Linked DNA regions of Homo sapiens. The protein of the gene in region 1 purifies or fractionates together with the protein of each later gene. This does not show direct contact. Each region holds a gene or a part of one and is shown in the gene's direction. Other genes may lie near its edges. The genes, in order: ASB8, AMBRA1, NPAT and CUL5.

Region 1 (7,115 bases):
TGGCTACAGCCCTCTTTAATTTATAAGTAAGCACTGGTGCAGTTTTTGTTTTACAACTATGGGGAACAATCTTCAAGTTCTCTGGTCCCACAGAAGCCCCTCTTTAGGCAACATCAGTACTTCCTTTCCCTCTGGGTAGGAGGAGAGTAGGGACTCAGCACATACAAATTTCTCCCCAAGAAGTCTCTTCACAGACCCTTCCTTCCTTCACTCTCTTGATCTCACCATGAGGTAGAACTGTTTGTCAACACTGACTTTGGACATAACAATGTTGTTGAAATAATCATCATTAATTGCAGTTGAGGATGTTCATATCTGTCTCCCAACCCTTGATAATAAGAGACTGTCTGTCTTCATTTCTGTCTTCCCTGGAGAGTTGAGCACAAAGCCTGGAATAAAGTAGGTGCTCAGTAAATGTTTGATGAAAGGATGATTGAATGTATCCGAAACCAACTTTTGTTGCGCACTGAATTCTCTGAGGCACTTCAAAGTAATCAGTATGGGCCAACTTTGGTGTCTCTTGCCTGGCTGACATGAGCTTTGGGGCCCAGCCAAGTAGACTGTGAGAGTGTTGCCAAGGCAATTCTGCATGCAAGAGGAAGTGTGGCAGGACTGGGGGTTTGCTGATAGCTGCCTGGGAAGCTGGCCCCTCAGGCAGTGATACCACCAACCACCCTTGAGGTGGTCAGGGCCTGAGCAGAAGGACTGCAGAGACTGCACATGCCCCTTGAAGCCCAGGCCTATTTCTTGGAAGTCTTTAGCATTCACATTTGCTATCTGAGGAGGTTTACTGCCTGGAGTGAAGTATTCAAAATAGAAAAGACAGAGAAGCTAGAGAAGGAACAGCAGTGAAGCATCAACAAGCCTTTACTGGGGGACCATTTTCCCTCACAACACATTTGGAGAGCCTGAAACTGACAAAGACTACCTGGGTCAGTGGCTGTTGATTTATTCTGGTTTCAGTCATTACTGATATCTGTCCAGAAGAACTAGAAAAAAATAATTCAAGTTGTGGGTGAGATAGTGTTCCAACTCTGCCAAATTTAACTTTTCATCACCATTGACCCAGAGAGGGACATAAAAAAGGCCATTGCAAATTATGTGAAAGAATTTTCTCCCAAACTGGTTGGCCTGATTGGCACGAAAGAAGAGATCAATCACGTGGCCAGAGCATACAGAGTATATTACAGCTCTAGCCCCAAGGATGAAGATGAAGACCATGTTAGTGAATCATACAATAACAATGTCTTTGATTGGGCCAGATGGTGAGTTTCCAGATTATTTTGGCCAGACCAGGAAGAATGCAGAAATTGTTAGCCAGTTCAATTGCTGCACACATGAGGGCACACAGGAAAAAAGAGCTAGCCAAAGCAGTGATGCTGGGTGCAATATTCTCTTGTTAAAGAGGAAGGAAGCAGCCAGGCGCGGTGGCTCACGCCTGTAATCCCAACACTTTTGGAGACCGAAGTGGGTGGAACACCTGAGGTCAGGAGTTCGACACCAGCCTGGCCATCATGGTGATACCCTGTCTCTACTAAAAATACAAAAATTAGCCAGGTGTGATGGTGCCCGCCTGTAACCCCAGCTACTCAGGAGGCCAAGGCAGGAGAATTGCTTGAACCCGGGAGGTGGGTGGAGGTTGCAGTGAGCTGAGATCGTGCCACTGCACTCCAGCCTGGGTGACAGAGTGAGACTTCATCTCAAAAAAAAAAAAAAAAGGAAGCTTTGTCTTCCATAGAAATATATATATTGTGTATATATATGTAATATATATAGTATATCTGTAATATATAGTACATATGTAATATATATATTGTGTGTATATATATATGTTATATATATGCAACCTACAGAATGACCTTTGCACCATTGTACCATGAGAATGTTTCTATTTTGGATTGGCATGTTACTCCTGGGTTCAGTCAAAATAGACTCTTGAAACTGTAAGATTACAACTCAAAGTCTCCCAGGTAGCTGTGGTGAGACCAGAGGACCAAGTCTAAATGAAGTCAGTGAAGAGTGGAGGACGCTCATGGAAGGACACAGCAAGGGAGGCACAGCCAGTGCATCTCCCATTATGAATGGGCCCTCCCAGCAGCTTTATTGGCTCTCCAGTGTTTTGGACCCTTGCTCATACAGGCTGTGGAACTGAATTTCACAGAAAAGAATAATTTTTATAGCACTTTGGCTTCTCTCTTCTTGAGTTATTTGCTCTTCTGTGTTCTTGGTGGCTGATGATAGTCAGATTAGGCTCTCTGCCATTCAAAGTTTATCTTTGTACTTGAAAGCATAAGTTTTGTCTTCTTTGTTAATGAATATCACTGTCAGGCTTGCTCCACTGCCCTATCAGCAGGTACTGATTTGACTAATAAAGATGAGATCTATTGTTTGGGGGGAAAAAAAGTTAGTTTGATTTCTCTAGGGGTCTCTTATGTGATTTTTAGCTAAGTGATGGGCTAGGTTTTCAATGACATGCCAAATGGAAATAAGAAGATATTGATCATGAGTGTGACATAGAGTAGTTTTCTGCATATACTGAGTTGCAGGCCAAGTAAAATAAAAGTGTACTCAGTTTTTCAATAAATAAGTAAAATAACCTGTATTGAGAGCCTATTTTATCACTCCCTGGGAGACTCCGCTCATTCTTACATTTGTAAGATGCTGATGGTTTCCCAGAATTTATATACTTCAGCATTTCCCAACCAAGAAATTTGAGAGATGTGGTCCAGTGTGGTGACTCATGCCTGTAATCCCAGCACTTTGGGAGGCCGAGGAGGGTGGATCACCTGAGGTCAGGAGTTTGAGACCAGCCTGGCCAACATGGTGAAACCCCATCTCTAATAAAAATACAAAAAAAAAATTAGCCAGGTGTGGTGGCAGGTGACTGTAGTCTCAGTTACTCAGGAGGCTGAGGCAGGAGAATCACTTGAACCCGGAAGGCTGAGGTTGCAGCCAGCCGAGATCACGCCATTGCACTCCAGCCTGGGTGAGAAGAGCGAAACTACATCTCAAAAATAAATAATGATGATGATAATAATAATAATAATAATAATAATAATAAAAACATTGCCAACATTTGCAACTTGGAAAAATTCACTTTTTAAAAAAAATCTGTATTTCAGCTTCTTTTGAAAAATGGACGATCTCACCATGGTGCAGTGGCAGGAAGTGGAGGGCATATTCCTACCTGGCAAAATTCCTTTGAGTCTGGAGCTCAAAGGAGGCCCACTCCTCAGACCAGGTCATGAACTTTCAGTTTACCATCCTCTTACTGATGTACATGATCTGTCTGGGCCTGCTTTAAATCTCTAATTGGTTAGATTTGGTTGCTTAGAACAAGCTCTGGGGAGTAGGTGTGGGGCACTCTGGTTAAACAGGCTACCGGGCAGACCACAACTCTTGCAGTCTGCCTAAATGGGCTGCTGCTTCACTCCTTCCATGCACCACCACCATGTGCTGCTGACTTCAAAATGTTTATGCTTTGCACAGAAAGTCTGTCACTCAGAGGTGTCATCATGTTTTTGTGCGGGAAGTTTCATTAACCCTAATAAGAGTTATAAAGGTCATTTATTCCTCTACATTTAGAATACTACACCTCTTGGGTGGTTGAGTTTGTCTTTGATATGGTTTACTTGAAGGAGGGTGGACATGTACAGGAGGGTTCTAAGGAGCATAGATTCGTTCCACCATTATGAATAATGCTGTAAGTATTTTTGTCAAAGACACTTCCTACTAAGAGTTTAGTCTCCTAAGCAACTGAACCATTGTGGATGGACCCCTGCTGGCCTGGTCCACGCAGGTGCAACCATATAGAATCGGCCCAACACTCAGGGTTCCTGAGCTTTTTTATCCCCGCTGCAGGACCAAGACCCGAACCCTGCGGCTGTGGCCGAGAACGCTGCACTGAGCCTGCGCGCAAAGCCTCTGAGTAAAAGGAGAAAGTAACCCCCTAACTAGGCCTCTGGAGGGCGAAAGCTGCTGCACAAGTCTGCGCAGGCGCGCCCCGCTGACGAACACTCATCAGTGCGCAGGCGCCCATCTTAGTTGGTCTTCTAGTCCGGTAAACAGAGGGCCTGCCCCCGACAGCTTCTGCTTCCGGGTCACGCCTTGACAGCGGCTTTCAACCCCCACCTCAGCCCAGCAATTCGGTGAGTGCGGTCCTTGGAGTGGGTCTACAGCCAGGTTTCCTAACCCAGGGTACCACGCCCAATAACGCTTCCTCTACTCCCTGGTCGAAGTGCTCTAGTTCTCGAGGCTGAGACTTATTTCCGGGCCTTAGAAGGCAGATCGAAGAGGGGGTTGGTCCGCGTCTGAGGCCCCCCAGCGCAAATTGCGTGATTCTCTTTCAGTACCGGACCTACCGGGATTGCTGCGATCTGTTTAGAGCCCGTGCAGAAAGTGACACCGCACGTCCTTGCGTTTCGTGCCCTTGCCCCCCGCCCCCTAGCCTCAGCGAGACAGCTGCCGCGGGCCCTCCCGCAGCAGGTGCGGTGGGGATTACGGGCGCTGCAGGCTCGGCCAAGGTTCTCCCGGGGCGGGAGGGGGCGGGGCCGAGGCCTCCCTCGCATCAGAGCTGTTGTGTCTTCTCTTTTCCAGTTTGCTTTTTTTTTTTTTTTTTTTCAGCTTCTCAGTAAGTGCCCTTTGGTGTTTTCTCTGGATCCCGTAGCAAAAGAAAACGAGGGAGACAGGGCTTTCAGCTCTAGCAGAGGAAAGGGCCTTCCAAGGGGATCAAACCTTACACGGGCTGCTGTCTAGTGAGATCGAATTTAGCTTTCCTTGACCATTCCTGAAGTGAATGCTGTCTGCCCTGAAGTTTCATTCCTTTACCGGGAGCTTCCAGGCAGCAGCAGACCACTGACCATACTCTCAGGAGTTCTTAGCCCAGAGCCCAAGAGCGCCCGGGAAATTAGTTCAGGATTTAGTTTCATCCGATTATCATGGCCCAGAAATGGTTAACAAAACGACTTTATTTATTTATTTTAATTTTTGAATTTTTTTGTAGAGACGATTGGGTTTTGGGGTCGTCTCGCCATGTTGCTCAGGCTGGTCTTGAACTTCCAGGTTCAAGAGTTCCTCCTGCCTTGGCCTCCCAAAGTGCTGGGATTACAGGCAACAGAACCACTTTGGTCCAAGCCTCCTGCTTTAGATGCTCTGTCTTCTGCTGCCATTCTTGGAATTACCAACTCAAATGCACTTGTCTTTTTTTTTCCTTGAAACAAAAAAATTATAAGATACAGATACTTGTCTCAGAGCAGTTTAGTGGCTACTGGAGAGATTAAAACACATGCCAAATCTAAACTATCTAGAAAATGTCATAGAGACATATAAACAAGTGTGTCAGCTTATCCGTGCATGATAACGGGAGAAAAATACCTAATTTGAATTATCGATACATATGAATATTTTTACTTGCATTCTTTTAATGGAATTTACATCTACTATAAATGGCTACTGATTCACAAAATAGAAACTATCAGAATTTATAGTATATAATATATAAAGGGATACACAATCACAAAAAGCAAAAATAGGCCGGGCATGGTGGCTCATGTCTGTAATCCCAGCACTCTGGGAGGCCAAAGCAGGTGGATGACCTGAGGTCAGGAGTTTGAGACCAGTTTGGCCAACATGGTGAAACCCTGTCTCTACTAAACATACAAAAATTAGCTGGGCGTGATGGTGCACACCTGTAAATCCCAGCTACTCAGGAGGCTGAGGAACGTGAATTGCTTGAGCCTGGGAGGCTGAGGTTGCAGTGAGCTGAGATCGCACCACTGCACTCCAGCCTAGATGACAGAGTGAGACTCCGCCTCAAAAAAAAAAAAATAAAGCAAAAGACTATATATACATATATATATATATATTTTTTTTTTTTTTGAGATGGAGTCTCACTCTGTCATCTAGGCTGGAGTGCAGTGGCGCGATCTCAGCTCACTGCAACCGCCACCTCCCAGGTTCAAGCGATTCTCCTGCCTCAGCCTCCCAAGTGGCTGGGACTACCAGGGGTGGTGCATGCCACCATGCCTGGCTAATTTTTTTGTATTTTCAGTAGAGACGGGGTTTCACCATGTTGGCCAGGCTAGTCTCGAACTGCTGACCTCAAGTGATCCGCCCATCTCGGCCTCCCAAAGTGCTGGGATTACAGGCGTGAGCCATCGCGCCCCGCCAAAACATTATATATTATTAAATGACCAAAACAATTTCATATGGGTAATGTGCTTATTTATTTCAAGTCTTGAATTTCTTAGGATCTAAAGTAATAAACTTTACATTGGTTCAACAGATGTTAAGAACCTACCATGTGTTCAGGTACTATTGAAAAAATCAGTATCGTTATTCCCAAAGAGCTTATAATAAGAACACAGATTTCTAAGCAGTTGCACCTAGAGAGCTGATACTGTGTATTATATTTTCCCTATTGTTTTTGATATGTACTGTTTCATAGAAGTGTTCTACCTTATTGGCTGTAATTTTAAATGGTCCCTAACTCTTGTCTCTTATACAGCCAAGCCTTTTAAGTTGAATTGAAGTATATTGCATTATTTTCTTCTTCCATCCTAGAACTCTGTCCTATTGTGGTTTCAACATATATTTCACCAAATCTATTTCTCAGTTGCCATGAATAGCCAATTATTAAAAATTTTCACTCATTTTATTTATTTTTTTGAGATGGAGTCTCACTCTGTTGCCAAGATTGGAGTACAGTAGTGCAGCCTCAGCTCACTGCAACCTCTGCCTCCTGGGTTCAAGCTATTTTCCTGCCTCAGCCTCCCGAGTAGCTGGAATTACAGGCGTGCGCCACCATGCCCAGCTAATTTTTTTTGTATTTTTAGTACAGATGGGCTTTCACCATGTTGGTAAGGCTGGTCTCGAACTCCTGACCTCAGGTGATCCACCCACCTCAGCCTTCCAAAGTGCTGGGATTACAGGTGTGAGCCACCACGCCCCACCTTTAACTCATTTTAAAATCTGCAAATTTTCCTAAAACTGAAAGTACATTTTATTATTCTGAATTTTAATTTTTTCCTAGTTTTATATAAATGACTCCAGGGTAGTTATACTTTTGCTTTCCTTACCTATTTTAGAATACTACCTCAAATATTTCCTTTTTTTTT
Region 2 (6,139 bases), on another chromosome or scaffold:
AGAGCATGGCACAGTGTGCACAGTGTATGCCCATCTGTGCAGGCAGGGAGCAGGGCTGCCGGGTACCTGCAGGAATGTGGGGGACAGGGCAGGAAGGTCTGCAGCATGATAAGGGTCTGGCCAGAGAGCCCTCAAATGTCAAGCTAAGGAGTTTTGACTACTGTGAGGGCTTTTGCAGCTGCTGGGTTTTGAACAGGGTGCAGACTTAACCAGAGCTCAAGTCAGCAGAGCTGAATTAGGATGGTAATAGGAACAGTGTGGAGACTAGACGGAAGGGGAGGAGACTGGAAGCAAGAAGCCCAGTTAGGACACAGTCATAGCCATAGAGAGGGGTGGCCAGGCCTGGAGCCATAGGCAAGCAAGCAGTGGGCTCAGACTTGAGTGCCAGCAGCAGGGCCTCCCGCAGAGCCTGGGAAAGCCCATCCGGGGCTCTCTGGGGGCTTGGCTGCAGCAGCACCCATAGGGCCCCAAGGCAGCCTGTTCTGCCCCTGGTAATCTACTTGAGAAGAGCTGAGCTGGGTGCGGTGGCTCATGCCTCCCAGAACTTTGGGAGGTCCAAGTGGGTGGATCACAAGGTCAGGAGTCTGATACCAGCCTGGCCAGCATGATGAAACACTGTCTCTACTAAAAATACAAAAATTAGCTGGGTATGGTGGCACATGCCTGTAGTCCCAGCTACTCGGGAGGCTGAGGCAGGAGAATTGCATGAACCCGGGAAGTGGAGGTTGCAGTGAGCTGAGATCATGTCACTGCACTCCAGTCTGGGCGACAGAGCGAGACTCTGTCTCGAAAAGAGCTGAGAATTCACTAGGCACAGCGCCTGGCACAGTGCACTCCAATGCCAGCAGGCCTCAGGCCAGCCACAGCACGCCCCAGACCATGCTGCGAGGGCTTCAGTGCACAGAGTTCTGAGAAAGCATTGGGGCTACAGTGAGCACAGGGAGGGCCCCAGGGGACCTCCCCAGGCAGCCCTTGGCTCCCAGGGTAGAATCTCTGTGGGCACCAAGGCCGTAGGTTGACTTTTTTCTTCTTACCTTCTGCCCCACTGTTAGAAGGCTTTAAAACCTGAAGATGGGGTTGACCCAGTACTCTGAGAGCCCTTCAGGTTTTCTCTCCTTCTGCCCTGGGAGCTGGAGCCGGGTGTCCCAGGAGGAAGTGGGGAAGGGCAGCCACCTTGAGGGATGGAGGGCAGTGCTTTATCAGGGGTTGTCCAGAAAAGCAAGAGAGGACATAATGCTGAGGAAGATCGTCTAAGACTGGGGCTGGGCGCAGTGACTCACCCATGTAATCCCAGCATTTTGGGAGGCCAAGGCAGGAGGATTGCTTGAGCCCAGGAGTTCAAGACCAGCCTGGGCAACACGGCGAAACCGTCTCTGCAAAAAGTACAAAAAATTAGCCAGGAGTGGTGCTTGCCTGTACTCCCTACTACTCAGGAGGCTGAGGTGGGTGGATCACTTGCACCCAAGAGGCTAAGCTACAGTGAGCCATGTTTGTACCATTGCACTCCAGTTTAGGTGACATAGCGAGACCTGGTCTCAAAAAAAAAAAAAAAAAAAAAAAAAAAAAAAAAAAACTATAGAAAGAACTAGAAGCATGAGGCTGCCAAGTACCAACAAGAAGGGTGAGAGATCTCTTGGGGCCTTAGATGCCACCAAGCTGTGAAACTGGCTGGCCTGGAAATCCAACTCTAATGAGGCAGGCAGAGAGAAGGGGATGGATGGGGTTAGGGGAGCAAAGAAAGTCTCATAAAAATAGCTGCTGGCAAGTACCCCAAAAGGAAAGAAAACTCACCATCAAAACCCCCAAAACTGCAAAATTCCAAACAGTAGCTGATGGAGACAAATCAGCAGTTCAGTGGAGCCATCCCTCGCAGCCTCAGAGCCTTGATCATAGTTGCCCACGGTCTTGGCCTGGTTCTCACCCTACCAAGAGCTGAGCAGAAAGCTGGAAGGGAGGTCCCACAGCAATAGAGCTCCACTGCTGCAGACCCCAAGTTAATCACAACAGGCACCGTTGACCAAGTGCCTGGGCTGTGCGTTAGCTCCTTTTCTCTCTCCAGCACCGTGCAAGGTAGATGTTAGGGATTTTTTTCAAGGTCACCCAGCAAGCAAGTGACAGCTGAGATTTGAGCCGAAGTCTTTTCTGTTCCCACACAAGGGAATGCTCAGGCATTTCTGCAGAGGGAGTGGCGGACAGATCCTTCTCTCCCTCCCTAGACCTGGGTCCTGTGCTGGTCAGTTGACTCTTTTCCGGGAAATATGGCATCAGGCATTGAGCCCCAGGAGAACAATAACTGGGGAATAGCTTGTGAAGACTGGGGGGTAAAGGGAAAGAAGAGAAGGAAACAGCCCTTCCAAGGAACAGTTAAAACTCTCAGCTTCTGACCAGGCACGGTGGCTCACGCCTGTAATCCCAACACTTTGGGAGGCCTAGGTGGGCGGATCGCCTGAAGTCAGGAGGTCGAGAGCAGCCTGGCCAACATGGTGGAACCCCATCTCTACTAAAAATACAAAAAATTAGCCAGGTGTGGTGGGAGCCTGTAATCCCAGCTACTCAGGAGGCTGAGGCAGGAGAATCGCTTGAACCTGGGAGGTGGAGGTTGCAGTGAGCCAAGATTGTGCCACTGCACTTCAGCCTGAGTGACAAGAGCAAAACTCCATCTCAAAAAACAAAGGCTGGGCACGGTGGCTCATGCCTATAATCCCAGCCTTTTGGGAGGCTGAGGCAGGCAGATTACCTGAGGTCAGGAGTTCGAGACTGGCCTGGCTAACATGGTGAAACCCCGTCTCTACTAAAAATACAAAAATTAGCTGGGTGTGGTGGCGGGCACCTGTAATCCCAGCTACTCGGAGGCTGAGGCGGAAGAATGGCTTGAACCCAGGAAGTGGAGGTTGCAGTGAGCTGAGATCGCATCATTGCACTCCAGCCTGGGCGACTAGAACAAAACTCCATTTCAAAAAAATAAATAAATATGGCCAGGCGTGGTGGCTCACGCCTGTAATCCTAGCACTTTGGGAGGCCGAGGAGGGTGGATCACCTGAGGTCAGGAGCTCGAAACCAGCCTGGCCAACATGGGGAAACACCATCTCTACTAAAAATACAAAAATGAGCCAGGTATGATGGTGCATGCCTGTAATCCCAGCTACTTGGGAGGCTGAGGCAGGATAATTGCTTGAACCCGGGAGGCGGAGGTTGCAGTGAGCCAAGATCACACCACTGCACTCCAGCTTGGGTGACAGAGCAAGACTCTGTCTCAAAAATAAATAAAATAGGCCAGGCGCAGTGGCTCACACCTGTAATCCCAACACTTTGGGAGGCTGAGGTGGGCAGATCACGAGATCAGGAGATCAAGAACATCCTGGTTAACATGGTGAAACCCTGTCTCTACTAAAAATATAAAATTAGCTGGGTGTGGTGGCGGGCACCTGTAGTTACTCAGGAGGCCGAGGCAGGAGAATGGTGTGAACCCAGGAGGTAGAGCTTGCAGTGAGCTGAGATCGCACCACTGCACTCCAGCCTGGGTGAAAGAGTGAGACTCCATCAATCAATCAATCAATATAAAAATAACTCTCAGCTTCCTCAGGGGCTTTGAGGAGGTAACACAAAACTACGCTGAAGGAAGACAGCATTGTAATGAAGCAGAGCAGACTGTTTCCCTTTGGGCCACACCCATAGGGTACCTACTCTCTTTGCAGAGAAAGGGTGGCATACCCCAGCTCAGCCCTAGGTCTGCTGAGTTTCCACAACAGGGAGCAGGCAGACAAAACCAGCTGTCTGAACCTGCCTTCTCGCATGCTAAGCTGCCACTGGTGCTGAGAGAACTCATTGAGGCCAACCTGCTGCCTTCTGGGCCAGTGCTGCCTCTTAACTGGCCATCCTAGGCCTCAGTTTCCCCACCAGTAAAACAGAAGTATGGATTGTGAACATTTTGGGGGTTTTGTCTAGCTTTCAAGACTCGGATTGGTTTTCACAGTGATGGAGCGAGTCTTTCTCTATCCTGCGTTTAGTCAAGAATCCCCCAGCTGCTACCGGTGGCTGCCCACCTGCCTCAGAGGCCCAGGCCAGCAGCCAATTCGCTCTCTCTTCTGCTTTGTATCTGCCAGGTGAGGGTTCAGAGTATGGTGCCAGTGGAGAAGATGCGCTCAGCAGGATCCAGAGGCTGATGGCGGAGGGCGGCATGACAGCCGTGGTGCAGCGGGAGCAGAGCACCACCATGGCCTCCATGGGCGGCTTCGGCAACAACATCATCGTCAGCCACCGCATTCACCGCAGCTCTCAGACGGGCACTGAACCTGGTGCCGCCCACACCTCCTCACCCCAGCCCTCCACCTCTCGGGGACTGCTCCCAGAGGCCGGGCAACTGGCAGAGCGAGGCCTAAGCCCCCGGACAGCTTCCTGGGACCAGCCTGGTACCCCTGGGCGGGAGCCAACCCAGCCAACCCTGCCCTCTTCCTCCCCTGTCCCCATTCCTGTTTCCCTTCCCAGCGCTGAGGGACCAACCCTCCACTGCGAGTTGACCAATAACAACCACCTTCTGGATGGTGGCAGCAGCAGGGGGGACGCTGCAGGCCCTAGGGGAGAACCACGGAACAGGTAGAGACAAACGTTGCACTGGTGCCTCCCCTCGAACCGCCAAGCAGAAACCGGACCTCACAGCTGACTGGGAACTGGACATGTGGAAGAGCTGCTGGCTGCATCAGGGAACAGGAGGAGGAAGAGGGTCAGGGTGGAGAGGAAGATCAGTCAGTGGGCACAAGACAGTCAAATGGGCAAGGCCTGCCTCGGGGAACTAGAACCTTCCAGGATCTGGAGCCCGGGAGAGCCACACTGTGGGCTTAATGTGAATAGAGGAACAAGTGGGTATCTCTGCCAGGCACCCCACTTTCTCCTAGTAACATGGGCTCAGGGGACTCAGCCCTGGACAGAGAGCCTCCAGAGAGTGAACAGTCTTCCAGATCTGGGCCAATCATCCTGGACAGAGGCCCGCGAGGCAGCTTTGCCCTGTCCACCTGTTGGGTGGGCAGAGCCACCAGGAACCCAGACACCACCTCCAACTCTGAGCCTTCCAGAGCTTCAGCCTCTCTTCGTCGTCTTACCCCACTGAAACCAACAGGGATCGGGCCAGGCTCCCAGATTCTTGAGGACAGGGACTTCGGCATTTACTAATGGGGGACTACTGTGGGGTAAGGGGGCGCCTGCTTGCCTGATACAGGATGGGGTCAAGGGACAGTGGGCAGGTCCTCACTCAGGAGTGGGGGGTGTAGGCTGGCCAGCCCCCAGGGCTTGTCCACCAGTCTTCTCCCCGCAAGGCCCTCAGAGCAGCGCCTGTGGGTGTCAGTATTACCTGAGCCTAGGCCAAAGCTAGCCCAAGGCTGGGGAAGGGGAGGAGACTCCAGGTCAGAATGTGAGGTCTCAGTCTGTGATTTAAGGTGTTGCATGTGGACTCTTAACTGTACGTGTAGTTTCTAGTGGAGAAATCAAGGCTCTGATCATTTTGTTTTTAGTATGAAAATGTGATTTCCTTTCTGTTTGTAACTCATCATAGAAACATTGTGGTGGGAGGAGAGGGGATAGTCTACAGCTAATGAGGGAAACACCAAAGATCACATCATTAAAATGATGACATGCCCCTCGCCAGGCTCCTCTCTCTTATTTCCAAGGAGGATGGGGGAGGGGTGGGGATTGGGAAGTGAGGGGCATTGAACTGGGCCAGGCCCAGGTTCTCCCGGCACTGTTTCTGGTGCTCTCCTAGTGGGGTGCAGTGGACCCCTCTGACCCCTTCGCCAGAGCTGGTCAGGTGAGGGCTGCCACCTCTGCTTCATACCACTTCTCTGTACGCCACCACTTCCTGCTTCCCCAGGGCCTGCTACAGACTGGGGCCACCTTCCAGTGCCAGGGTGAGTATGTAGGAAGGAACGACAGAAGGCTATTCATCCTAATAGCTTCCCACCCAGGACTACAGGCCTGAAGTGATGTAACTGGCCAGAAACCTGGATCCCCTCCAGTCCTGGGAAAGCACGCACAGCAGGTGTCCAGCCTGCTAGGCAGGTGGAGGGGCTTGGTCCTATCTGCAGGCAAGGTGCCAGTTGCTAGCTGCTCAGGTCTCCCTTGACTGTGTCTTCCCTACAGTGGCCGAAAG
Region 3 (7,029 bases), on another chromosome or scaffold:
TTAATGTTTAGGAATATATTCACCAAAGTTCTTACCTCTAAGAAGTAGGATTAGGAAACACCTATCTAGTTTTGTTTTAATTTGTTTTAAATGAGCATGTCATTGGAAATTTTCTTGGAGTGGGGGAATGCTACTACATAAAAAGTCAGAAATAGTCGAGTGTCTGCTAATTATTTTGCTGGTATTAAATCATATTATTCACGCTGAGTACAGTGGCCCACATCTATAATCCCAGTGCTCTGGGAGGCTGAGGCAAGAAGATCACTTGAGCCCAAGAGTTCTGGACTACCCTGGGCAAGGTAGCAACCCCATCTCTATCAAAAATAATAATAATAATAAAATAAGCTGGGCATAGTGGTGCACTTGTAGTCCCAGCTACTCAAGAGGCTGAGGCAGGAGCATCAGTTGAGCCCAGGAATTTCAGGTTATAGTGAGCTACAGTGACTCTACCACTGTACCACTACACTCCAGCCTGAGCAAAAGAGTGAGACCCTGTCTTATATATATATAATATGTAAATATATATAAATTCAGTTAGAATCATGCCTTCACGCCACTCCTTTCTTGCAGAGTGAAATTCACATGTCTGAAGAAGCTATACAGGACATATTGGAACAGACAGAATCAGACCCAGCATTTCAGGCACTCTTTGATCTCTTTGACTATGGTAAGGAGACTATTTATTTCAAGACAGAAAAAAAAGGCTTCTACAATTTCTTTGGTAACTTAACCAGAGTGAATCAACATTCCCCAGAGTATCTAAAAAAGTTCTTGTTTTCATTTCATCAAACATTATATGGATATGTTAAAGGAGTGTTTGTTGTTTTGTTTTTAGCTGAGAAACTTTAGCTGTTAAAGTGGAGAGTAGTTTTGTTTTTTATTTTTGTGGCATTTTTGCCAGTCATCAGGGAATGTGTTGATGTCTACCACTATACAAATGTGTTAAACACAATTGAATCGTACAAAGGGAATACAAAAAATTGGCCATTGTCCTCAATCTTATGATTTAGTGCAGTAGTTCTCAAAGTATAGTCCCCCAAACCAACAATCTCAGCATTATCTGAGAACTCGTTAGAAAATGCAAATTACTGGGCTAAAGTTTAAGAAACACCTGTCTAGTGGGAAAATCTTTGTACTTGTAAATGATATTAAAAGCAACATTTTTTAAACATCCATAAAACCCTAAATCGAAGTTTAACATTTGCGTAATCACCAACAAGCTGTATTCATTGATGTTTATTTTTTGTTTTGGTCATTTAATTATTTCCATATTCCCTTTTTAACAGGCAAAACAAAGAATAATAAAAATATATCACAAAGTATTTCCAGTCAACCTATGGAATCCAATCCCAGTATAGTCTTAGCAGATGAAACTAATCTAGCAGTTAAAGGTTCTTTTGAAACAGAAGAATCTGGTAAGAATTTAATTTTGTTAATATCATCAATCCAAATCTTAATATTAGTCTCAAAATTCAAAGGCAGAAAATATTAATTTGGAAGTAGAAGTTGTTCAGATTGTTATAGGTCATTTTTGTATTTTTCTCTCTGTTAAAAACAATTATAAATCTTTGGTAGTTTGATTAAAAGAAAATTTACAGTATTCATTCTTTTACTATAAGCTTTTTTTGTTGGTGTGTGTTTGTTTTTTGAGACAAGGTCTCCCTCTTGTCATCCAGGCTGGAGTGCAGTGGCACAATCATAGCTCACTGCATGCAGCCTCAAACGATGCTCCCAGCACTTTGGGAAGCAGAGGTAGCATTACAGGTGTGAGCCACCACACTCAACCTCATTCCTTTATAATTCAATTCTTGACATGTACAATTTAGTATTAATGTTGTTCAGTTGCTCAAAAGTCTGTAACATTTATTTTTATTAAGGCACATGTTTTTTGTGCACCTGTTTTTAAATGTTATCACCTGCTCCCACCAGTAAAAAATCTGATGGCTTCCAGTGTTCATTCACATCCTGTCCTTGGAGAATCTCAGACTGTGTGCCTCCTTTAATTCCTCTGCCAACAATCAAGTCCAATTCTCCATTTCTTCTTAGGCTGAATTATAGTGGGTTGTGTTTTTTGCAGTATATATTATGTCTAGAAGATTGTGTTTCACTTAAGTTCTTCCCTGTACAAAGTGAAACTTGAAATTCCGTTTTCTGAGAAAGTCATCCTACTTCACTGAGGAACTACTTATCCTGAATTTATGTGGCCTCTATACAATTTCTACTGTTTTCCCCACAATAAGGATTCAGATGTGCTCTGTACTCAGCAGCAAGTGTCACATTTAACAGAATTAGAGTAGTCCCCCCTTATCTATGGGGGATATATTCCAAGCCCCCCAGTGGGTGCCTGAAATTGGGTGGTACCAAAGCCTATATAGTATTTACTGTTTTTTCCTTTTCAGGCATACCTATGGTAAAGTTTAATTTAAAGTTAGGCACAGTAAGAAATTAACAATAGCTAATAATAAAATGGGACAGTTATAACAATATACTGTAATAAAAGTTATGTGAATGTAGTCTTCCTCAAAATATCTTATTGTACTGTACTCACCTATTTTTAGGCTGGTTGACTGTAGGTAACTGAAACCACAGAAAGCAAAACTACAGATAATGGGAGACTGCTGTATATGCTAGTTGACATAAATGTTCTGGTTTTTAAAAAATATTTTTCATACTGATTCAAGTTAATGTTTTCTGTCCTAAATTGTGAATGCTGTATTGTTGTTTTCTGAAACACTTTTTCCAGGCCAGGCACAGTGGCTTATGCCTGTAATCCCAGCAATTTGGGAGGCCAGGGAGGGCAGATTACTTGAGGTCAGGAGTTCAGGACCAGCCTAGCCAACACGGTGAAACCGCGCCTCTACTAAAAATACAAAAGCTAGCCAGGTGTGGTGGCTGGCGCGCACCTGTGATCCCAGATACTCAAGAGGCTGAGGCAGGAGAATCACATGAACCCGGGAGGCAGAGGCTGCAGTGAGCTGAGAATCGCACCGCTGCACTCCAGCCTGGGCGACAGAGCAAGACTCTGTCTCAAAAAAAAAAAAAAAAGGAAATACTCTTTCCTTACTCATATCATACTCTTTTTTTTTTTTTTTTTTTAAGATCTTCTCATACAGTGCCTCCTTTATAATTTTTTCTCATGGTACCTTTTGTTCCTATGCTGTTACAGTTTTTACCATGCTTTCTTATGACTTTCTGTTCTATAGTTGGTTCCTTGACTAACCTCTCCAAGATTAGAGATTGGATCATTCATCTTTGTATCCCAGTAACCAAGTATGGTTGGTCTTCAGTAAATATGTGTTTAATGTTAAACAGTACACAATGAGATCAAGTGTCAATCATGCAAAATGTACTTGGCCCCATCTCACCTTTAAGAATATGTCAGATAAGTTGGGTGTGGTGGCTCATGCCTGTGATCCCAGCACTTTGGGAGGCCGAGACAGTAGATAAATTAAAGTCAGAAGAAATGTTAGAAGTTGAAAAGTTAGTGTTTCAAAATAAACTTCATTTTTGGAGCCAGTATGTTTTTTACCTATTGAAATATTAAACCTCTTTACTTTTTCCTTCTTTGTATCATCTGTCTTCCAAGCTTGGAAAACAAATTGACACTTGTGTAAAAAGTCATCAGTAACTAGAAAGTACCTGTAAATTTTTTGATACTCAGTAAATGGGAAACACAGCGTATCAGACTTCCACTTACTGGTATGCAAAGATGAGTTATTTTCTTGGCAAAATAAGTTTTATGGCAAAAATGACTACCTCAGAAGCTGAACATATTTACCATATCTGTCTACCTGCCTGATACTTTGCAGATGGTCAGTCTGGTCAGCCCGCTTTTTGTACATCCTATCAGAATGATGACCCATTAAATGCTTTGAAGAATAGCAACAACCATGATGTGCTTAGACAAGAAGACCAGGAAAATTTTTCCCAAATAAGTACCAGCATACAGAAAAAGGCCTTTAAAACAGCTGTACCCACTGAACAGAAGTGTGACATTGACATTACCTTTGAGTCCGTGCCTAATTTGAATGACTTTAACCAAAGAGGGAATTCTAATGCTGAATGTAATCCACATTGTGCTGAATTATACACCAATCAGATGTCCACTGAAACTGAAATGGCTATAGGGATTGAAAAGAACTCTTTGTCTTCAAATGTACCGAGTGAATCTCAGTTACAGCCTGATCAGCCTGATATACCAATAACTTCATTTGTTTCACTTGGTTGTGAAGCTAACAATGAAAACTTAATTCTCTCTGGGAAGAGTTCTCAACTTTTATCCCAAGATACTTCATTAACTGGAAAGCCATCTAAAAAAAGTCAATTTTGTGAAAATTCTAATGATACAGTAAAACTTAAAATTAATTTTCATGGTTCCAAGTCATCAGATTCTAGTGAAGTTCACAAGAGTAAAATAGAAATTAATGTGTTAGAACCAGTTATGTCACAGCTATCAAATTGCCAAGATAATTCTTGTCTTCAAAGTGAAATACTACCTGTGTCTGTTGAAAGTTCACATTTAAATGTATCTGGACAAGTAGAAATTCATCTTGGAGATTCGCTGTCTTCTACTAAACAACCATCTAATGATTCAGCATCTGTTGAGTTAAATCATACAGAAAATGAAGCTCAGGCATCCAAGTCTGAGAATTCACAGGAGCCTTCATCTTCTGTAAAAGAAGAGAATACTATTTTTCTCTCTTTAGGTGGAAATGCTAACTGTGAGAAAGTTGCACTGACGCCTCCAGAAGGCACTCCTGTAGAAAACAGTCACTCTCTTCCTCCAGAATCTGTGTGTTCTTCAGTGGGAGATTCTCACCCTGAGTCCCAAAATACTGATGATAAACCTTCTAGCAACAACTCAGCAGAGATAGATGCATCAAATATCGTCTCTCTCAAAGTTATCATTAGTGATGATCCATTTGTTTCCTCAGATACTGAACTTACCAGTGCTGTTTCTAGTATTAATGGAGAAAACCTGCCAACTATAATCTTGTCTTCTCCTACTAAATCACCTACTAAAAATGCAGAACTAGTTAAATGCCTATCTTCAGAAGAAACTGTAGGTGCTGTTGTATATGCCGAAGTAGGGGATTCAGCCTCAATGGAACAGAGTCTTTTAACATTCAAATCTGAAGACTCTGCAGTAAACAATACTCAGAATGAAGATGGCATTGCTTTTTCAGCTAATGTTACACCATGTGTTTCCAAGGATGGAGGATATATACAGTTGATGCCAGCCACAAGCACAGCTTTTGGCAATTCAAATAACATTCTGATAGCTACCTGTGTGACTGATCCAACAGCGTTAGGAACATCTGTAAGTCAGTCTAATGTAGTGGTGTTGCCTGGAAATTCTGCACCTATGACTGCTCAACCTCTACCACCTCAGTTACAGACACCACCAAGGTCAAACAGTGTATTTGCTGTCAACCAAGCTGTGTCACCAAACTTTTCACAAGGTAACTTTAATAACATAATTGAAATTTGTTTCTCTGGGTTGGGATCTAATTTCTTTTGTATGTGATGTTATTGACTGCGAAGTAATAACTAATGAGTAGATGGTATGAGAAAAGATTCTGAAATTTGTGATTACGCTGCTTCTTTATGCTAGCTAATTCAAACCTTTTTTATTTTTCTTAATCTGCTAGTAAGCTATGGGCTTTAGTGGTTTTTCTTTTTTCTTTTCACAAATACTTCTCAATCTATGTGCTAGTAAGTTACAATAAACAGAAAAGACAGACTAATTCATCACATAGTTGTATAAAACCCAATGTTGTGGGGGAGTTTTTAAAAATAGCTCTTATAGTCATGGTCTTCAGGGAATTCATCATCTTTTTGGAGAAATTTTCAAGAAAAACTTGAATTTCAGCCGGTTATGGTGGCTCACGCCTGTAATCCCAGCACTTTGGGAGGCCGAGGTGGGCCGATCGATCACCTGAGGTCAGGAGTTTGAGACCAGCCTCGAGAACATGGTGAAACCTCATTTCTACTAAAAATACAAAAAAATGAGCCAGGCATGGTGGCAGGTGCCTGTAATTACAGCTACTTGGGAGGCTGAGGCAGGAGAATCTCGTGAACCCAGGAGACAGAGGTTTCAGTGAGCCAAGATCATGCCATTGCACTTCAGCCTGGGCAACAAGAGCGAGACTCTGTCTCAAAAAAAAAAAAAAACTTGAATTTCTTCCTTTATAAAATCCTTTCTAATTGATCTCTGTCTTTAAAATCCTTTGTTTATGGCTGGGCTCAGTGGCTCATGACTGTAATCCCAGCACTTTGGGAGGCCGAGGCGGGCAGATCACCCGAGGTCAGGAGTTCAAGACCAGCCTGGCCAACATGGTGAAACCCCGTATCTACTAAAAATACAAAAATTGGCATGGTGGTGGGCACCTGTAATCCCAGCTGCTTGGGAGGCTGAGACAGAAGAATCTAAAGCTGGGAGGCAGAGGTTGCAGTGAGCCAAGATCGCACCACTGCACTTCAGCCTGGGTGACAGAGTAAGACTCTGTCTCCAAAAAAAAAAAAAAAAAAAAAAATCCTTTTTTCATAGGGGCTCTTGTGGCATTTATTGCGTGCTGTGTTATATGTAGTTAGTGATTGATATGCCTATCATATTGATAATTTTTTATTGTATGTTCCTCAGAGATAGTGCTCATGGCACATTTATTTACATTTCCTTATGTGTTGGTTCCCAAGCTTCCCTCTTTTCCCTTTTTGTTACATTATAGACATACAATAAAATTTCATTAAATATCAACAATTAGTATTAAACCTAATGGGTCTGTTTTACGTGCTGTTACAAATTACATAAAGGAGAGGTCAGAATTAATAGAGAATGTGGGGCTTGAGCTAAAGCTTAAAGAATGAAGGTAGGATTTGGAGTTAAAGCAAGGAAGTTTTTATAACTTATAAAATCTGTAAGTTATAAAGAGAAGCAGCACCAGCATAGACAGAGAGACCGTAGTAGGTTGCATGAAAATGAGGGGATCAACCTGACAGTAGTGTATTAGGCAAAAGTTTGTTTATGGA
Region 4 (7,029 bases), on another chromosome or scaffold:
TTGCAAGGAAAGAGTTTCTTAACCATTTTATATGTGTAGTCTTTTCTTTATTTTTCTTTTTTTTTTCCTTTTTTGAGACGGAGTTTTGCTCTTGTTGCCCAGGCTGGAGTGCAATGGCACGATCTCGGCTCACTGCAATCTCTGCCTCCCAGGTTTAAGCAATTCTCCTGCCTCAGCCTCCCGAGTAGCTGGGATTACAGGCACCCACCATGCCCGGCTAATTTTTAGTAGAGATGGGGTTTCTCTGTGTTGGTCAGGCTGGTCTTGAACTCCTGACCTCAGGTGATCCGCCCGCCTTAGCCTCCCAAAGTGCTGGGATTATAGGCTATGAGCCACCACGCCCAGCCATGTGTATTATTTTCTTAGGACAGAAATATACATGGATATATGCATTTAAAAGTCATCAGCATCATTCTTGTAGAGGAGCCTGAAAAAACCTTTTTTTTTGTTTTGTTTTGTTTTGTTTTGTGACAGTCTTGCTCTGTCGCCCAGACTACACTGCAGTGACATGATCAAGGCTTACTGCAGCCTTGACCTCCTGAGCTTAACTGACCCTCCCACCTCAGCCCCCCAACTCGCAGGGACCACAGAAAATTCTTTATTCGGAAAATTTTAAGCATTTTTACAATGTAGGAAGAACAGTATAATGAATCCCCATTACCTAAATTCAGCTTTAGTAGTTACCAACATTATGTCAATTCCAAAGGAATTTTTAATAAAAAATTTTTAAGGGACACATAATTGCCTCCCTTAATTTACAGATAGATGATTTGTTTTTCAGAAGAAATATATCAGCCTTATTGTACTTAACTTTAGTCCTCACAACCTATTAATTTCATCTGATCCCCAAAAGAGAAGTAAATAATTACATGACACGAGGGAGCAGAGATGACATGATATCTTCTGCCTCATTTAGATTTTCCTGATGGCCTCCTAGAGCACTAGACCCTTGCTATCTTACCTGAAATAGTTCAACAGCCTCGTTACCATATCCCAACCACCCACTCCTTACCACCTGCCTTACTACCATTATACTGATCTTTAATAATGACTTGAGGAGAGGAGAATCTCATTACATTTATCCTCTGTTTAAAACTTCCTTGGGGCCAGGCCTGATGGTTCACACCTGTAATCCCACACTTTGGGAGACTGACAGGGGGATCATGTGAGACCAGGAGTTTGTGACCAGCCTGGGGAACATAGCAAGACATCATCTCTACAGAAAAGTTTAAAAAATTAACCAGACTTGATAGTACATCCCTGTAGTCCTAGCTACTCAAGAGGCTGAGGCAGGAGGATCACTTGAGCCTAGGAGTTCAAGGCTGTAGTGAGGTATGATAGTAGCTATGTAGTAATGCCACTGTACTCCAGCTTGGGCAGCAGAGCAAGACTCTGTCTCTTAAACAAACAAAAAAACCTTCCTTTGTTCTTCCTTCCCTACCTATGAAATAAAACCCCAAATCATAGATTTTCATTCATAATCTGGTTGCAGCCTATCTTTCTAGCCTTCTCTTCCACTGTCTGTTTCTTCTCTACCATTTTAAGCTTCCTGGTATTCCTAGAATACGTAACCTATTTTAGGGCTTGTACTTACTTTACAGGATCCCATTTAGATACCAACTTGTGGATGAGGCCATTTTAACTACCCTAGAAAAAAGTAGTTTCTAAGTTTTTTTTTATTTTGTGTGTGTTTGTGTATGTGTGTGATGCCACTTAACTGAGTTATATTTAGTTAGCAGTGTAGGTTTACTGCCCTCCTCACTCTCAATTAGACAGTGATCTCTTCGAGAGCAGGAATTATATCTTATTCTTGTCTCTTAAATACTTCCTTAGTGCCTGCACGTAGTAGGCATCCAATAATGGTTTGTTGAATGAATGTATTCACACTTCTAGAATTTTATAACCTAATTTTAAAACAGGTTCTCTCCAGACAGGAAGAGTTAATCAAAGTTTGGTTTTGTATATTTTTCTCTCCCCTCCTTGAGGACTTTTGTTAAAATTTCTAAAGAGAGTCTAGTTCTATAGTTTTTTTCCTTAGGGGAAAATACACTTTGGTAAACTAGTATAGCATATCCATCTTCAATAATCCTATAGTTAAGGTAAGTGAAATCTACTTTCAGTATAATTTTTTTTTTGTTGAACAATATTGTTTTATTTTGTGAGTTAGAATAGATTTGTGCTATACAGCTTATAGTAGCCTTGACTAATTTTTGATATATTTCAGCTCATGGAATGCTGTGTAAATGCCCTGGTGACATCATTTAAAGAGACTATCTTAGCTGAGTGCCAAGGCATGATCAAGAGAAATGAAACTGAAAGTAGGTAAAACATCACATAAAGTTATCATAATCTTCTAAGAGGGTATCTTTGAAACAAATCACTTACTAAGTTGCTCTTAGTTAATTCTTTTCCACATAGGTATATGTGGAACTGTTAGAGTGAACTATACTTAAGGAAATAGATAAAATATTTAACACAGAGGCACTGCTAAGAGTATATAAACTTAAATTTTAAGCATTTTCCCTCTTAGCTATCAACATCTGTGTATGTGTATGGTGAATTTCTACTTTTTTCTCAAAAGCAAGACACTGCTTTTAAAGGCCAGTTTAAACTGGAAACATATGTTATAGATTAGAACCAGGTATTTGACTTTTGTGTGGAACCTTGTGATGAATCTTTTTAGAATGTAATAAAACACTCCCTGTTAATAGTCATCTCTGTCCCCCAAAATACTTTATAAGATTTCTAAAGGATTTTTTTATTACTTCAATGTTTTCTTAAAAAGATGTGTTTTGAGAGGTAGCAAGTATATAACAAACTAAAAAAAAAAATTGTACATATACCTACTACCCCAGTAAAACTGCTTTTAACATTTTTTTGCTTTTGTTTTTTAAATAACGTACTTCTACTGAGTTTCCAGGTTTTATTATATCTAACTGCAAGGTCCTGTTTAATCTCTAGTTGCATTTAAAGTGCATATTTCAATTCACTTAAGTTCATACACTTTTTAGGAGTAATTCAGTAGTAAAAAGCAAGCTGCTTTATTGGCGTAAACAAAATACTTGTATTCTGTGTGCCAGTCTAATTAGAGTTATGTCTGATCTATGTTGCACTCTTTTCAAAAGGATTTATTTAGTGGTAATCAGTACCGTGAGGTAGGGTTTTTGTGAAGGTCAATAAAATGGCATAACATGAAAAAGTGCTTTGTAAATTGAAAAATTATTTATGAATACAGTTTTATATTCTAATCTCTAATATAGTTGCTTTCGTAATTATTACTCATGTTTTTTACCTTTTGATGATATGGCTGTATATGTAGTATTACAACTACCTTATGAAATAAACTAATCTTGTGTGTAAATAAATATTCCTTTGCACTGAAAACCAAATGACTCACCTTTTCTTTTGAGACTGGGTCTCGCTGTGTTGCCCAACCTGGAATTCGATGGCACGATCACAATTCACTGTAGCCTTGACCTCCTGGGCTCAAGCGATCCTCCCACCTCCCAGCCCACTGAGTAGCTGGGACTACAGCCGTGTACCACCATGCCTGGCTAATTTTTGTATTTTTTGTAGAGGCAGAGCCCCACCTTGTTGCCCAGGCTGATCTCCACTGCTTCTGGCCAAATGACTGACCTTTTAAAGAAAGGAGTTGGGTTTTGCAGTATTTGATCACTTTTTTTATTTTTATTTTTTGAGACCGTCTTGCCCTGTCACCCAGGCTGAGTGCAATGGTGCAATCACGGCTCACTGCAGCCTCAGCCTCCTGGGCTTAGGCATTCCTCACACTTCAGCCTCCCAAGTATCTGGGACCAAAGACATGCACCACCACACCCAGCTAATTTTGTTTGTTTGTTTTTGTGTAACGATGGGTTTTGCCATGTTGCCCTGACTGGTCTTTTTAACTCCTGGGCTCAAATGATCCTCCCACCTTGGCCTCCCAAAGTGCTGGAGTTACAAGCGTGAACCACCACACCCAGCCTGATCACTTTTAATTCGATTTTTTTTTAAACATAATTTTTAGACTAAGTACAGTGGCTCATACCTATGATCCCAGCACTTTGAGAGACCAAGGCGAGAGGATTGTGTGAGCCCCGAAGTTTGAGACCAGCTTGGGCAACATTGGGAGACCCTGTCTCTACAAAATTACAAAAAACATTAGCCAGGCATGGTGACATGTGCCTGTGGTCCCAGCTACTCAGGAGGCTGAGATGGGAGGATTGCTTGCGCCCAAGAGGTCAAGGCTGCAGTGAGCCGTGATCGAGCCACTGTACTCCAGCTTGGGTGACAGACTGGGACCCTGTCTCAAAAACAAAAAAACAACAACAAAAAAACGAACAACTACTCCTAATGGCATTGTATCCACAGAATACTATTAACATTACAAACTTAACTAATGTTTCTCTAAACTCTTACTCTAGTAAATGAAATGATTACATGAATGTGTTCTCTCCTTCCAGAATTACATTTAATGTTTTCATTGATGGACAAAGTTCCTAATGGTATAGAGCCAATGTTGAAAGACTTGGAGGAACATATCATTAGTGCTGGCCTGGCAGATATGGTAGCAGCTGCTGAAACTATTACTACTGTAAGTTTTTTTTCAATGGCAATGATAGATATATATCAAGGCTATTTTTTAAATGTAGGATTATTGAAAATAGTGAGCGGTTACCAGAGGCTGGGGGTTGGGGGAGCAGAAGAGGTTGGTTAGTGGGGTATAAAGTTATAGTTCAATAGGAAGAATAAGTTTTGGTGTTCTATTACCCATTAGGGCGGATATAGCAAGTAACAATGTAGTGTATATTTCAAGATAGAAGAGATTTTTTATGTTGTTACCACAAAGAAATTATAAATGTTTGAAGTGATGGATATAGTAGTTACCCCAATTTGATCATTATAGTATATACATGCATTGAAATATAACATTGTACCCCATAATATGTACCATTATGTGTTGATTACAAATAAAAACATTAAATTTTTAAAAATACAGAATTGAAAATTGAAAATAGTAATTGAAATTACTATTTTCTCTGTAAAACAGGGAGCTGGGCAAGGTGGCTCACGCCTGTAATCCCAGCACTTTGGGAGGCCGAGGTGGGCAGATCACAAGGTCAGGAGATCGAGACTATCCTGGCTAACATGGTGAAACCCCTCTCTACTAAAAATACAAAAAAAATAGCCAGGCGGGGTGGCGGGCGCCTATAGTCCCAGCTACTTGGGAGGGTGAGGCAGGAGAATGGCGTGAACCCAGGAAGTGGAGCTTGCAGTGAGCCGAGAAGGTGCCACTGCACTCCAGCCTGGGCGACAGATCGAGACTCCGTCTCAAAAAAAAAAAAAGGAAGAAAGAAAAAAGAAGTGGCAAAACAGTAATATTGGAACACCTTTTAGTTTTATTTTTAAGAAAAAATATCCCCAGTTTTAAATGAGTTTTATTAAAATTATGTTTATTTTCTCATTTTTTTGTGTTATTCTTTTTCTTTTAAAAACTTAATGTAAAACCTTTTGTTTCTAGGACTCTGAGAAATACGTTGAGCAGTTACTTACACTATTTAATAGATTTAGTAAACTCGTCAAAGAAGCTTTTCAAGATGATCCACGATTTCTTACTGCAAGAGATAAGGTATATATTCCTATATATATAAAAAACACTTTTAAAAGTTTTATTCTCATAATTTACTTCTAATAATCAATTTGCATTATTTTTCTATTAATTATAAACTTAAAAACCTAGCAACTGTTATTTTTCATCAGTGGAGAACAACTATATTCGTTTTGTCTTGGCTGTAAGCATTTGTTAAACATTAGATAGCCTTGTGAATTAGAATTTAGTTAGAAAGTTGCTTTTTTCTCATTTTTCCAAGAATGTTTTTCTGTTTTTGAATATTACTGATCTATTGAATTCCTATTCATCCTTCCATTAAGACCCAGCTCAAAGAATACTTCCCCTGGAGCTTCCTTGATGTCCTGCCTCCCTCCACAGCTCATCACCAGCAGAGTTGATTCCTCCATCCTCCGTCCTTTCATGGGACTCCTTCGGGAGTTATGTTATACTTATCCTTGTTTCCCAGGGAAGCATTTGTATTGCATACCATCTTTTTCCATCCTCACTAGTATAGGATAATGATAATAAAACACCATACTGTCCTTAGCATTGTATCTTTTTTAGTGTAATAAACCTATAACAAGAAATTGCTGTTAGTTTTTTCTCTTCTTTGACTACCTTTCGTTACTTCCCAAGTTTGAATGATTCTAAAAAGACAACTTTCTCCATTCTCCAGTAGGATTTTTTTCTCACTCTTTTTGTCTATTTTAATTTTTTTTTTTTTTTTTTTTTGAGACTGAGTTTCGCTCTTGTTGCCCAGGCTTGAGTGCAATGGCATGATCTTGGCTCACTGCAACTTCTGCCTCCCAGGTTCAAGCGATTCTCCTGCCTCAGCCTCTCGAGTAGCTGGGATTACAGGGACCAACCACCATGCCCGGCTAATTTTTGTATTTTTACTACAGACGGGGTTTCACTGTGTTGGCCAGGCTGGTCTCGAACTCCTGACCTCAGGTGATGGGCCCGCCTCGGCCTCCCAAAGTGCTGGGATTACAGGCCTGAGCTACTGTGCCCAGACTCTTTTTGTCTATTTTAAAACAAGTAAATAGGCCAGGTGCAGTGGCTCACGCCTGTAACCAGCACTTTGGGAGGCCAGGGCGGGTGGATCACCTGAGGTCGGGAGTTCGAGATCAGCCTGATCAACATGGAGAAACCCCATCTCTACTAAAAATACGAAAAATTAGCTGGACGTGGTGGTACATGCGTGTAATTCCAGCTACTTAGGAGACTGAGGCAGGAGAATTGCTTGAACCCAGGAGGTGGAGGTTGTGGTGAGCTGAGATCGTGCCATTGCACTCCAGCCTGGGCAACAAGAGCGAAACTCTGTCTCAAAAAATAAATAAATAAAAATAAAACAAATAAGTAGGTAAAGTAGGAAAGGAGTTAAGGGAGTATAGACATGGTGGGCGTGGTGTGAAGTCTTA

Evidence for each region.
Region 2: the proteins of ASB8 (region 1) and AMBRA1 purify together in Homo sapiens (affinity purification with mass spectrometry; 4 studies listed by BioGRID and IntAct, with this or other methods). This does not show direct contact.
Region 3: the proteins of ASB8 (region 1) and NPAT purify together in Homo sapiens (affinity purification with mass spectrometry; 2 studies listed by BioGRID and IntAct, with this or other methods). This does not show direct contact.
Region 4: the proteins of ASB8 (region 1) and CUL5 purify together in Homo sapiens (affinity purification with mass spectrometry; 5 studies listed by BioGRID and IntAct, with this or other methods). This does not show direct contact.

The regions. Positions count from the first base shown.
Region 1 is NC_000012.12:48,154,492-48,161,606, reverse strand, and holds the start of ASB8 (ankyrin repeat and SOCS box protein 8), read left to right. Parts: upstream 1-4,091; 5' UTR 4,092-4,148; intron 4,149-4,349; exon of another isoform or gene 4,350-4,485; intron 4,486-7,115. UniProt on the Homo sapiens protein: May be a substrate-recognition component of a SCF-like ECS (Elongin-Cullin-SOCS-box protein) E3 ubiquitin-protein ligase complex which mediates the ubiquitination and subsequent proteasomal degradation of target proteins.
Region 2 is NC_000011.10:46,395,908-46,402,046, reverse strand, and holds the end of AMBRA1 (activating molecule in BECN1-regulated autophagy protein 1), read left to right. Parts: intron 1-4,103; coding exon 4,104-4,597; 3' UTR 4,598-5,633; downstream 5,634-6,139. UniProt on the Homo sapiens protein: Substrate-recognition component of a DCX (DDB1-CUL4-X-box) E3 ubiquitin-protein ligase complex involved in cell cycle control and autophagy.
Region 3 is NC_000011.10:108,170,632-108,177,660, reverse strand, and holds part of NPAT (protein NPAT), read left to right. Parts: intron 1-570; coding exon 571-667; intron 668-1,286; coding exon 1,287-1,415; intron 1,416-3,809; coding exon 3,810-5,462; intron 5,463-7,029. UniProt on the Homo sapiens protein: Required for progression through the G1 and S phases of the cell cycle and for S phase entry. Activates transcription of the histone H2A, histone H2B, histone H3 and histone H4 genes in conjunction with MIZF.
Region 4 is NC_000011.10:108,067,872-108,074,900, forward strand, and holds part of CUL5 (cullin-5), read left to right. Parts: intron 1-2,224; coding exon 2,225-2,318; intron 2,319-4,460; coding exon 4,461-4,591; intron 4,592-5,518; coding exon 5,519-5,626; intron 5,627-5,928; coding exon of another isoform or gene 5,929-6,006; exon of another isoform or gene 6,007-6,195; intron 6,196-7,029. UniProt on the Homo sapiens protein: Core component of multiple cullin-5-RING E3 ubiquitin-protein ligase complexes (ECS complexes, also named CRL5 complexes), which mediate the ubiquitination and subsequent proteasomal degradation of target proteins.